Linked DNA regions of Homo sapiens: all the other regions are linked to region 1. The links come from fine-mapping of genetic effects on gene expression. A gene starts in region 1. Each other region holds a variant in brackets. All regions are shown on one strand. Distances are from middle to middle.

Region 1 (4,089 bases):
TTATACCACTGCTTTTCAAAAGGATCTTTTTATGATCAGGTGAAATGATGTCCTTTTGAGTGAATGACATACAGCAATTAAAAATGTGCATTAATACTGATTTGGGGCCAAACACGTAACTTATGTGGTTAGACTTCCCAGTCTTAAGTCTAGTGAAATCTCACAGACTATCAAGACCAAATGTTGTATTTCAAGTCACAGGTGTGGAGACAGGGTAGCGATCAAAGTACAGGTTTTCAGAGTTAAGTGGAATTCAGTGAATTCAAAGCCTAGCTTTTCTGATACCAGACATGGCACTTCAGAGAAGTTACAGTAACCTTGCAAGTCTGTTTCCTCACTAGTAAAAATGGAGATATATAATAATCTAATTGAAGGTGACATATGTATTAAGTGAGTTCATATATGAAAAGTGCTTAGCACTGGACTCAGCATATGGTAAATGTTCAGTAGGTTAGCTAGTTCTAAGACAGGCTTATAAACATACTTTTTCTAATGTACTCTTTAATAAGTTTTTGTGAGGAATTCACCTTCAGTTTGAAAGAAGTCCACTTATCTTGGTTGCCTTGGCAGGATTCTAATTGGGAGGGTGTCTTTTGGCATCCTGACTAGATTCTCATGCAGAGATGGTGATATTTTGGTTAAATGAAGTTAACAGTAAAGTGGTCATCTCTCTACTTCTGCTCTCAACCCCCATCTCAGCTTTCCCCAAGTATTCTGGAACCCTTTCTGAAGAAGAGGGCAGTTCTAACTTTCAGGGATGTTCTGGTGCCAGCTCAATATGCATCTCATTAATCTTATCAATAGTAACAAAGTATTTGAAGGGCAAAGAAAGATACGATTACTACCTATTTGAAGTTTATAAAGAAAGCCAGAAGAAAAAGAAAAAAAAGAGAACAAAAGATAAAGTAGGTCTTGTTTCTTCATCCACGCTCCAAATTACTGATTTCAAACTGCTCCAAGGACCCAAACTGTTCAGCAATGTGGGCTACACTTCCTCTGATATCCAGCCAACGCATAAAGAAGCTGACATAAAAACTCAAAGGAAATCATGACTCCTGCAAAACAAAAGACAAAGGGTGTACAAAGGATCATCATTCAAGTTGGAAACCTGCTTGATAGTCCCAGATCAGCACAAGGCTTTCCACATCTCCTTGACATTAGTCAGCTGGATGTCAGCTGTACTAAAGCAGTTTTGCCAAGGGGTGTGAAGAAAACACTTAAGTGTAAAACGTATTCCTTGATCCTCAAGGAGCTTACAACAGGGCTGGGGAGATTAGCCGTGTAACTGACACTCCAGGGCGGTCAATGAAACGTGTCACACGAGTTGGCAGGGGCCTTGAAGGAGAGGGATTTCACAGTTAAGGATCATTTGGGGCTGGGGGCTTGTCAAGGAAGGCTTTAAGAGGTGGGATGTAAGTGGCAGGCAGGGCTTTAGGTGGGCGGGAAATCCAGGCGATCCTGGCCAAGGACTCAGGCACAGGACGCTGGGATGGCCTGCCCGGCGGACCGGCCTTACCCTTTCGGGCCACGGCGCGTGCGTACCCCAAGGCTCGCGCTGGGCGCATTGCCCGCGGGAAGCCGGCCAGGACCAGAGAACACGGGACACCGCGGGCCAAGGCGGGAAAAGCCTCGCGCATGCGCGGTTCGGCGTTCCGGGCTCGCCGGGTTGGGGAAAGGGAGGTGGAGTTTCCAACAGGGAACTTGACCCGTTAGCAGCCGCAGCCATGGCGGCGCGTTCGCCTCCCTCACCGCACCCTTCGCCCCCAGCGCGACAGCTGGGCCCCAGGTCCCCACGTGTTGGGCGGGGAGCTGAAGTACACGCAATGCGCAGCGAGGCCTCGGGTTTTGCCGGCGCAGCGCGGGAGGTGGTCGCGGACGAAAGTGATAAAATCTGGGTGGGTGAAGAAGGGTCAGGGGGCCGGCGAGGGCCTGGGGGGGCAGCTCCGGCTCATGCTCCCCTCCTCAGCGCGCCCATGGGGTCCAGACGGCTAGAGGGCATCTCGGTAGAGGAGGCGATGGTGACCCGGACGCAGCTGCTGGAGGAAGAGCTGAGCAGCCTAAAGGAGGAGTTGGCCCTGTGTCAGGTATCGAGGAGTCTCGCAGTCCCCCTTTCCCCACCACAGCGGGGCCGGGACCCGTGGGGAGGCGCGCCTTTCTCCCTCTGCCTTGGGACCTACCCCGCCCAGCGACGCTCCCTGGCAGATGCACACCCTGCTTCGCTCGCGGCCGGGGGCTGGAGGGACGCGGCTGCGCCCGGCTCCCCAAACCCGGGCCCCTGCCCCTTTCCGAACTGCGGCCAGACAGGCTTCGCCTCCGCGCCCGGGTTTGGTTTTGGTCACTTGGATACTCGCAGTCGCATCCTCTCCGCTTCCCCCCCAAGCCCAAGTTCTTGGTGGTGACGGTAGCTGATACCTGCCGGGGGCCCAGGAGTGACATGCAGTCCACTAGTTGAAATGAACAGGAAAGTGTAAACACTTCGGTTAGAGTAAAATCCATCGATGAAGGAGCCTGTTTTTAAAATTTCAAACCCACACTTGGCTTTGTTTTTACCCAGTCAAACTTAAGTTGTAAACACAGACGAGTAACGTTTAGAAAGTCTCAGAGCCGGGAACTTAACAATAGATGATGCTTGGTACTTGTTTATTAACCAGCTATGGTAATTCCGCGGTCCTTGAGTGAGAAATCACATTTTCATGTGATCTTGCCAGTGAAAAACATTTGCTAAATCAATTGCATTAAAATTACTTTCCTGTTTGTAGAGTTTTTGTAAGGATGGACTTGACTATACTCATGTTCAAAGAGATTGAATTTTCCTTTAGTTTTGCATCCTTACCATCATCTCTTTTGATTTTACCAGAACCTTTAGATAGGGTTGGGAGATTGGATGTGGGAAACTCACTGAACAGTAGATCTTTAAGTCACTCTGTCTTCAACTTAGAAACCAATTAGGAGCTGCTGAACATCAAAGTAACTTTGTGAACAGTATCATCAGTTTAATAAAACAGTTCATGAAATTCATTCTCTGTCGCCCAGGCTGGAGTGCAGTGGTGCAGTCTCAGCTCACTGCAAGCTCCGCCTCCCGGGTTCACGCCATTCTCCAGCCTCAGCCTCCCGAATAGCTGGGACTACAGGTGTCCGCCACCACGCCTGGCTAATTTTTTGTATTTTTAGTAGAGATGGGGTTTCACCGTGTTAGCCAGGACAGTCTCGATCTCCTGACCTCGTGGTCCGCCAGCCTTGGCCTTCCAAAGTGCTGGGATTACAGAAATTCATTCTCTCATAGTTTGTTCTGTTGGATTCTTTTGCCCATTTTATAGGTCCTTGCTGACTGAGTGAAGGGTGTAAAAATGGGACCATCTTCAAATTGAATGTGCCTTTGGTTAAACAAGGTTGGGACATTTAATATGGTGCCCTCTTTTCGTTTTACCATTTTTCTGTTCTTCGTTGGATAAGGAGCAAAGGGATAAATAAATGACAACAATGAATTGAAGCATTTGTCATCTGCAGACCTCACCCTTTGGGGAGTTTTAAGATGTGAACCCATGATAAAGGCCTTTGATACTCTGAGTCCTAATCTAAGACACTCTTTGGCATATTTTCCGCACTCTTTCCTCCCACTTCTGCCTCCCCACATAGTTAGGCCTTTAGCTGGCTAAAGAGCTAAGATACTTTTTTATGACCGACTTGGTTAAGGAAGTCAGTCTATTGGAAACAGCCTGATGAACCTCTTCCCACAAATACTTACATTCTTTAAAAATGTGGCTCCAAACATGGTGTTGGCTTTTGTGACCTCGGACATATATAGACTAGGAAAATGATTGACATACTCTTGGCAAATGTAAGAATACAGAGATGGTCATAATAGTCTAGAATGATGATCTCTTAGATTTTGTAATATTAATACTCTTATATAATTGTAGGCAGTATCCCGCACCATAAAAATCTTAGTCAAATCAGACTCCTGCTCTTCGGGAATCTTGGGGAAAAATAGTAATTGAACTCCCAATTGTTTTGTAAAAAGCATTTAGGTGATTAAATATTCACTTTTATATCTTTTAAAGTATACTCTCCCGCTTATTTATTCAGCTA
Region 2 (4,089 bases), 96 kb after region 1:
TAGGAATTCCATTTAGAGATTTTTAGCAAACTGTTGGAAGCATGAATCTGATGAAGGAGTTTTGACCTGGAGATGTGGGTATTTAATAGTTTAGTTAGAGGGAAGACTTTAAGCAGTGAGAATTTTGAGAACAAGATATTTACTGATATTTTTAATGAGGAAGGAAAAATTGTAGTGAAAGAGGTGAAAAGACTTTATAGAAGTAAGGAGAGAGTACAATGCAATATCTCATGAATTGAGAAGAGAGAGTTTCAAGAAGCAAAATGTTGTCATTGTCGTAAAATGCTGCAAAAAATGGAGTGGGTTTTTGAAAAAGACATTACATTTAGCAGTCATGAAGTTTTAAAATGAATTTTAGAAAGCAATACAACAGGGATGGCATATGAAATTTTAAGAGATCATTGAATTCTGACAAAGTAATGGAAAGGAATGAAGAAATGTGACATTATGGGGTGGGGAGATAGTGGGATGGATTGATTGATTGACTGATTTGTTTTAAGTAATAGCTCACGCAGTCGTGGGCTGGCAAGTAACTCTGCAGGGCAGCCTGGCAGAATGGAGACCTAGGGAACAGTTTATGTTACATTGCAAATCCTAAGGTAGCCTGGAGGTAGAATTTCTTCCTCCTCTGGGGATCATAGTATTTTCTTGGGGCCTTCAACTGATTGGATGAGGCCAGCCCACATTATGAAGGGTAATCTGCTTTTCTCAAAGTCCATTAATTTAAATGTTAACCACATCTAAAGAATACTTTCACAATAACATCTAGACTGGTGTTAGATAAGAACGTGTGTACCATGGGTAGCCTAGCCAAACTGACATATAAAATTAACCAAATGGGTAAAAACAGCTGGGGTAAATAGGTTTTATGTTTATCTGGCTAGATATTAGGCTGTCTCCACTGTTCGCTGTGGTATGAGTTAGAGGCAGAACTCTGGTATCCGTGCCTTTTATTTGAATTTTTGTAGAGATTTTATAAATATCCTTGATATGCATAATTCAGTTTTCTTAAAAAGAAAAACCTTAGACAAATTAAATTCAATGGAGTTTAATTGAGCTGAAAAAAATTCACGAATTGGGTAACACTCAGGACCAAAAGTGGTTCATAGAGCTCTGCTCCGCAGTGTGGGCTGGGACTGTGTACAGCCAGACAATGGAAGTGACACACAGAAATAGCCAGATTGGTTACAGTTTGGTGTTTGCCTTATTTGGACATGTTTTGGCAATTTGCACTTGTGATTGGCTGAATGCTTGGCTGCTGTGATTGGCTGAGACTCGGCTACTATACAAAAATATACTCTCAAGTAGGGTTGTGTTTACATGTTGTTAGGTTACAGTTAGCTACCTACAGAGGCAATTTAATTTAATAGTTGCTATTTAAACTGCTTTGTTTGGTCAAACCTATTAATTATACAATAGTCCCATTGATGTGGTGGTGGGGTGTTGGGGGAGGAGAGGAAGCGGTCTGTAGTGTTATGTTTGGGTTTTTTTCATGGTGAGCTGTGCTTCTGGACTGTGACCTTCAAAAGTGCTTCTTAGTTTTTTGTTTGTTTGTTTCCCCCCTCCCCTTACCCCCTTAGGAGAGACAGGAAGGCTAGAAGGTGCTAGAGTTGGGTATTTCCCTTTTCCAAGTTGGTTAGTTAGGCTCAGGTAAAACCCCATGAGTCTGGGCTCTGGTAAAATAGTTTTTCTTGATGGCAGGCCTTGGTAAGAAGAAAAGAATACTCTGAGTGTGTTTAAAGATGGTTACTTTCTCCCTCCACATACTGGAAACAGGAAGGAATAATTGTGTGATCTTCCCTGTGACAACATGACAGGGGTCCAGTAGGTTAAACTTATGAAAATGTGTCACCTCTTATTGTTTTATGGTTCCTCTGAGTACTGCTTGCCCCCTTCCCCCAAGCATGACTGAGCCATCCTTGAGTTTTAAACTCTCAGACTTGTCCATATTGATCTTCCAGTAATTCATTAATTACAGAA[T/C]AAGTTTTTCCACCCTGGTGCTGGCTCCTGTGGAAGTTTTTTCTCCTGGGCATCTGTTCCATTAAGTTGTTATTCTCTCTATTTTCATGTCTGTCTCTTCAATTTTGGGAGCGTTGGTTTGCTGGATAGTCTCAATTCTCTGATGGATCTGAAAAGAGTTGTTGATTTTCAGTTTGTTCAGCGTTTTTTCTTATTGTGTAAATGAGAAAGATGACTGCCAAGTTCCTTATATGCTGGACTGGAAACCAGAAGCCCCCTCCATTGAATTGTTGTTGTTCCACTGAAAAATATTAAATAGCTCCTAATGTTCAAGATTTATAGCTATGAGATAGAGTAAGAATTAGAATGACAAATCCTTCAGCTTATTTAACTCTTACTTCTGTATCTAGTGAAATTACTAGAAAGTTACACACACACACAGTTTTTTTTTAGCTGTTTGCAGAAAAACTTTCCTAGGGTGCAATCTAATAATTATTAGTATAAAGAATTGCCTTTTTTTGGGTAAGACTATGTTTTAGCTTTGTCACTGTTATAAAACAATGTTAATACATTTCCCTTCTAGTATTGTGCTTTGATAGCATGACTTATGATAACCTAGTAAATTGTATTTAATTAGATGATAATTGCTCTTTAACATTATATTTCATTTTTTCCTTACCTTCTAGGAAGCTCAGAAGTTTTGTTTCATAATTGCAATTACTTCTTTTATCCCTTCCTTTTTCTCCACTTATCATTGCTTTAGTTATTGTGGTTTAATTACTGCTTTGTTTGTTTTTTGTTAAAAGTTTCATGTCCATTTTGAAAATAGGTCAGTATAAATAATAAATTAACTATGCTCAAGTATTGCCTAATAGAGTTTGGGGTTTGGGCCTTATGCCCCTTCCCTACCCCCCACCCATTTTTATGCCTGCTTCATACTCACTATTATTCTCTTGTTACTCTGTAGACTTCTCTTGACCATTATTTGAATTATTCATTCATTTCATGGCTTATCTGTAATAAATTATTTGTTCCAGACATTCTCTCTCTTGTCATCCCTTATTGCTTTATGGTTCCTCTGAATTCTGTTTGCTGTTTTAATATTAACTCAAGCCAGGCTATTAAGAATTTACCTGCCTCTATTCAGAAAGATTTGTTGAAAAATATTAATAAAGCTTAATTTTAAAATGAACTTTAACTGTATATGTCTGTGCTTTCATTATTTATAGAGGGTATATTTTATTAGGAAAATATGTTGATTTATACAAACTTTTACACTTTTAGAGTTTATCAGTGCTCTTGTGTTGGGAGAGAATCTTTGTCTAACTTATTTTCTTTAATGATTTTGTGATATAAGTAACTATATTATGCAATTTAATATTAAACTAATTATCGGAATATAATAATTTTGGTTAACCAATTTTTTAAATTTTATTATGCTTTTTAATTTACAGATTGAGTCTGTGTTTGTCCTTTTGAATTACTATTATAAGTTCACTCAAATGCCAAAATCTAAATTATTAAATAATTCTCATGAAAGGACTCTCTATTGGTATCATTTATATTGTCAGTGCCTGTTTAGTTTACTTTAATGGGAAAACTCTTTTAAAACTTGTCATTTGGTTCTTCCTAGAGTTTAACTAATTTCAGAATAGACAAGATATGCTCAAATTTTGTCATTTCTCCTTCAAAGGATAGGCTTATGGGTATTTTACAAACAGTTTTAATGCTTATATTATTGAATTTATTATTTAGTGTCAATTTCATCTGTAAACACTTAACAGTCTAGTTTGGGAGATATTATGAGTAGATAGATTATTAGCAACACTCGGTAGTTTGTTGTGTATCAAATGTATAATATAGATAATACAAAAATTTAGAAATGGCAAGAATTACAAAATACTGAGATAGTAAGGGAAGCTTTTATTGAGGAGGTGGAAGTCGAGTCTTAAAGGGGCATAAGACTTAGCTGAGAGTAGAAAAATTGATTGTAAATTGTGGAGGAGCCATTTTTATGCATCTATTTTTATGTTATTTGATTGATGTCAGGCACATTTTGATATGGCCTAATAATTAAAATAGAACAGAAAAGTTAAAAACTGAGATGCTATTTGTACTTACTGGATTTAA
Region 3 (4,089 bases), 130 kb after region 1:
ATAGTTTGCTGAGATTGATGGTTTCCACTTTCATCCATGTCCCTACAAAGGACATGAACTCATCATTTTTTATGGCTGCATAGTATTCCATGGTGTATATGTGCCACATTTTCTTAATCCAGTCTGTCTTTGTTGGGCATTTGGATTGGTTCCAAGTCTTTGCTATTGTGAATAGTACCACAATAAACATATGTGTGCATGTGTCTTTATAGCAGCATGATTTATAATCCTTTGGGTGTATACCCAGTAATGGGATGGCTGGGTCAAATGGTATTTCTAGTTCTAGATCCCTGAGGAATTGCCACACTGACTTCCACAATGGTTGAACTAGTTTACAGTTCCACCAACAGTGTAAAAGTGTTCCTATTTCTGCACATCCTCTCCAGCCCCTGTTGTTTCCTGACTTTTTAATGATCACCATTCTAACTGGTGTGAGATGGTATCTCATTGTGGTTTTGATTTGCATTTCTCTGATGGCCAGTGATGATGAGCATTTTTTCATGTGTTTCTTGGCTGCATAAATGTCTTCTTTTGAGAAGTGTCTGTTCATATCCTTCGCCCACTTTTTGATGGGGTTGTTTGTTTTTTTCTTGTAAATTTGTTTGAGTTCATTGTAGATTCTGGATATTAGCCCTTTGTCAGATGAGTAGGTTGCGAAAATTTTCTCCCATTTTGTAGGTTGCCTGTTCACTCTGATGATAGTTTCTTTTGCTGTGCAGAAGCTCTTTAGTTTAATTAGATCCCATTTGTCAATTTTGGCTTTCGTTGCCATTGCTTTTGTTGTTTCAGACATGAAGTCCTGGCCCATGCCTATGTCCTGAATGGTATTGCCTAGGTTTTCTTCTAGGGTTTTTATGGTTTTAGGTCTAACATTTAAGTCTTTAATCCATCTTGAATTGATTTTTGTATAAGGTGTAAGGAAGGGATCCAGTTTCAGCTTTCTACATATGGCTAGCCAGTTTTCCCAGCACCACTTATTAAATAGGGAATCCTTTCCCCATTGCTTGTTTTTCTCAGGTTTGTCAAAGATCAGATAGTTGTAGATATGCAGCGTTATTTCTGAGGGCTCTGTTCTGTTCCATTGATCTATATCTCTGTTTTGGTACCAGTACCATGCTGTTTTGGTTACTGTAGCCTTGTAGTATAGTTTGAAGTCAGGTATCATGATGCCTTCAGCTTTGTTCTTTTGGCTTAGGATTGACTGGGTGATGTGGGCTCTCTTTTGGTTCCATATGAACTTTAAAGTAGTTTTTTCCAATTCTGTGAAGAAAGTCATTGGTAGCTTGATGGGGATGACATTGAATCTATAAATTACCTTGGGCAGTATGGCCATTTTCACGATATTGATTCTTCCTACCCATGAACATGGAATGTTCTTCCATTTGTATCCTCTTTTATTTCATTGAGCAGTGGTTTGTAGTTCTCCTTGAAGAGGTCCTTCACATCCCTTGTAATTTGGATTCCTAGGTATTTTATTCTCTTTGAAGCGATTGTGAATGTGAGTTCACTCATGATTTGGCTCTCTGTTTGTCTGTTGTTGGTGTATAAGAATGCTTGTGATTTTTGTACATTGATTTTGTATCCTGAGACTTTGCCGAAGTTGCTCATCAGCTTAAGGAGATTTGGGGCTGAGACAATGGGGTTTTCTAGATATAGAATCATGTCATCTGCAAACAGGGACAATTTGACTTCCTCTTTTCCTAATTGAATACCCTTTATTTCCTTCTCCTGCCTAATTGCCCTGGCCAGAACTTCCAACACTATGTTGAATAGGAGTGGTGAGAGAGGGCATCCCTGTCTTGTGCCAGTTTTCAAAGGGAATGCTTCCAGTTTTTGCCCATTCAGTATGATATTGGCTGTGGGTTTGTCATAGATAGCTCTTATTATTTTGAAATACGTCCCATCAATACCTAATTTATTGAGAGTTTTTAGCATGAAGCATTGTTGAATTTTGTCAAAGGCCTTTTCTGCATCTTTTGAGATAATCATGTGGTTTTTGTCTTTAGTTCTGTTTATATGCTGGATTACACTTATTGATTTGCGTATGTTGTAACAGCCTTGCATTCTAGGGATGAAGCCCACTTGATCATGGTGGATAAGCTTTTTGATGTGCTGCTGGATTCGGTTTGCCAGTATTTTATTGAGGATTTTTACATCAATGTTCATCAAGGATATTGGT[C/G]TAAAATTCTCTTTTTTTTGTTGTGTCTCTGCCAGGCTTTGGTTTGAGGATGATGCTGGCCTCATAAAATGAGGGAGGATTCCCTCTTTTTCTATTGATTGGAATAGTTTCAGATGGAGTGGTACCAGCTCCTCTTTGTACCTCTGGTAGAATTCGGCTGTGAATCCATCTGGTCCTGGACTCTTTTTGGTTGGTAAGCTATTGATTATTGCCACAATTTCAGAGCCTGTTATTGGTCTATTCAGAGACTCAACTTCTTCCTGGTTTAGTCTTGGGAGAGTGTATGTGTCGAGGAATTTATCCATTTCTTCTACATTTTCTGGTTTATTTGCTTAGAGGTGTTTGTAGTATTCTTTCATGGTTGTTTGTATTTCTGTGGGATCGGTGGTGATATCCCCTTTATCATTTTTTATTGCATCTATTTGATTCTTCTCTCTTTTTTTCTTTATTATTCTTGCTAGCGGTCTATCAATTTTGTTGATCTTTTCAAAAAACCAGCTCCTGGATTCATTAATTTTTTGAAGGGCTTTTTGTGTTTCTATTTCCTTCAGTTCTGCTCTGATGTTAGTTATTTCTTGCCTTCTGCTAGCTTTTGAATGTGTTTGCTCTTGCTTCTCTAGTTCTTTTAATTGTGAAGTTAGGGTGTCAGTTTTGGATCTTCCTGCTTTCTCTTTTGGGCATTTAGTGCTATAAATTTCCTTCTACACACTGCTTTGAATGTGTTCCAGAGATTCTGGTATGCTGTGTCTTTGTTATCATTGGTTTCAAATAACATCTTTATTTCTGCCTTCATTTCATTATGTACCCAGTAGTCACTCAGGACCAGGTTGTTGAGTTTCCATGTAGTTGAGTGGTTTTGAGTGAGTTTCTTAATCCTGAGTTCTAGTTTGATTGCACTGTGGTCTGAGAGACAGTTTGTTATAATTTCTGTTCTTTTACATTTGCTGAGGAGAGCTTTGCTTCCCAGTATGTGGTCAATTTTGGAATAGGTGTGGTGTGCTGCTGAATAAAATGTATATTCTGTTGATTTGGGGTGGAGAGTTCTGTAGATGTCTATTAAGTCTGCTTGGTGCAGAGCTGAGTTCAATTCCTGGGTATCCTTGTTAACTTTCTGTCTCGTTGATCTGTTTAGTGTTGACGGTGGGATGTTATAGTCTCCCATTATTATTGTGTGGGAGTCTAAGTCTCTTTGTAGGTTACTCAGGACTTGCTTTATGAATCTGGGTGCTCCTGTATTGGGTGCATATATATTTAGGATAGTGAGCTCTTGTTGTTGAATTGATCCCTTTACCATTATGTAATGGCCTTCTTTGTCTCTTTTGATCTTTGTTGGTTTGAAGTCTGTTTTATCAGAGACTAGGATTGCAACCCCTGCCTTTTTTTGTTTTCCATTTGCTTGGTAGATCTTTCTCCATCCCTTTATTTTGAGCCTATGTGTGTCTCTGCACATGAGATGGGTTTCCTGAATACAGCACACTGATGGGTCTTGACTCTTTATCCAATTTGCCAGTCTGTGTCTTTTAATTGGAGCATGTTGCCCATTTACATTTAAAGTTAATGTTGTTATGTGTGAATTTGGGCCTGTCATTATGATGTTAGCTGGTTATTTTGCTCGTTAGTTGATGCAGTTTCTTCCTATCCTTGATGGTCTTTACATTTTGGCATGTTTTTGCAGTGGCTGGTACCGGTTGTTCCTTTCCATGTTTAGTGCTTCCTTCAGGAGCTCTTTTAGGGCAGGCCTGGTGGTGACAAAATCTCTCAGCATTTGTTTGTCTGTAAAGTATTTTATTTCTCCTTCACTTATGAAGGTTAGGTTGGCTGGATATGAAATTCTGGGTTGAAAATTATTTTTTTTAAGAATGTTGAATATAGGCCCCCACTCTCTTCTGGCTTGTAGAGTTTCTGCCGAG

Which allele goes with the higher level. Alleles are on the strand shown, and positions count from the first base shown. SD is a standard deviation of normalised expression in the study named. Not every link is listed here.
In carriers of allele C in region 3, the expression in monocytes after interferon gamma of the gene that starts at base 1,699 in region 1 tends to be lower than with G alone (moderate effect, 0.51 SD a copy in Fairfax 2014).

The links.
Region 2: its variant is fine-mapped to the expression of CNTLN in pancreas (GTEx, PIP above 0.99).
Region 3: its variant is fine-mapped to the expression of CNTLN in monocytes after interferon gamma (Fairfax 2014, PIP 0.95).

What each region holds. Positions count from the first base shown.
Region 1 is chr9:17,133,342-17,137,430 of GRCh38, forward strand. It overlaps CNTLN (centlein), which reads left to right and starts at 1,699. Exons shown (of 26, transcript NM_017738.4): 1 at 1,699-2,084. The coding sequence starts at 1,725. RefSeq lists an enhancer at 1,980-2,543.
Region 2 is chr9:17,228,950-17,233,038 of GRCh38, forward strand. The region is part of intron 3 of CNTLN (centlein); the gene reads left to right. Among named protein-coding and RNA genes, the nearest start is that of CNTLN, 96 kb to the left of the region's middle. The variant T/C (reference allele first, on the strand shown) is at 1,981.
Region 3 is chr9:17,263,313-17,267,401 of GRCh38, forward strand. All of the region lies in intron 5 of CNTLN (centlein), which reads left to right. Among named protein-coding and RNA genes, the nearest start is that of CNTLN, 130 kb to the left of the region's middle. The variant C/G (reference allele first, on the strand shown) is at 2,180.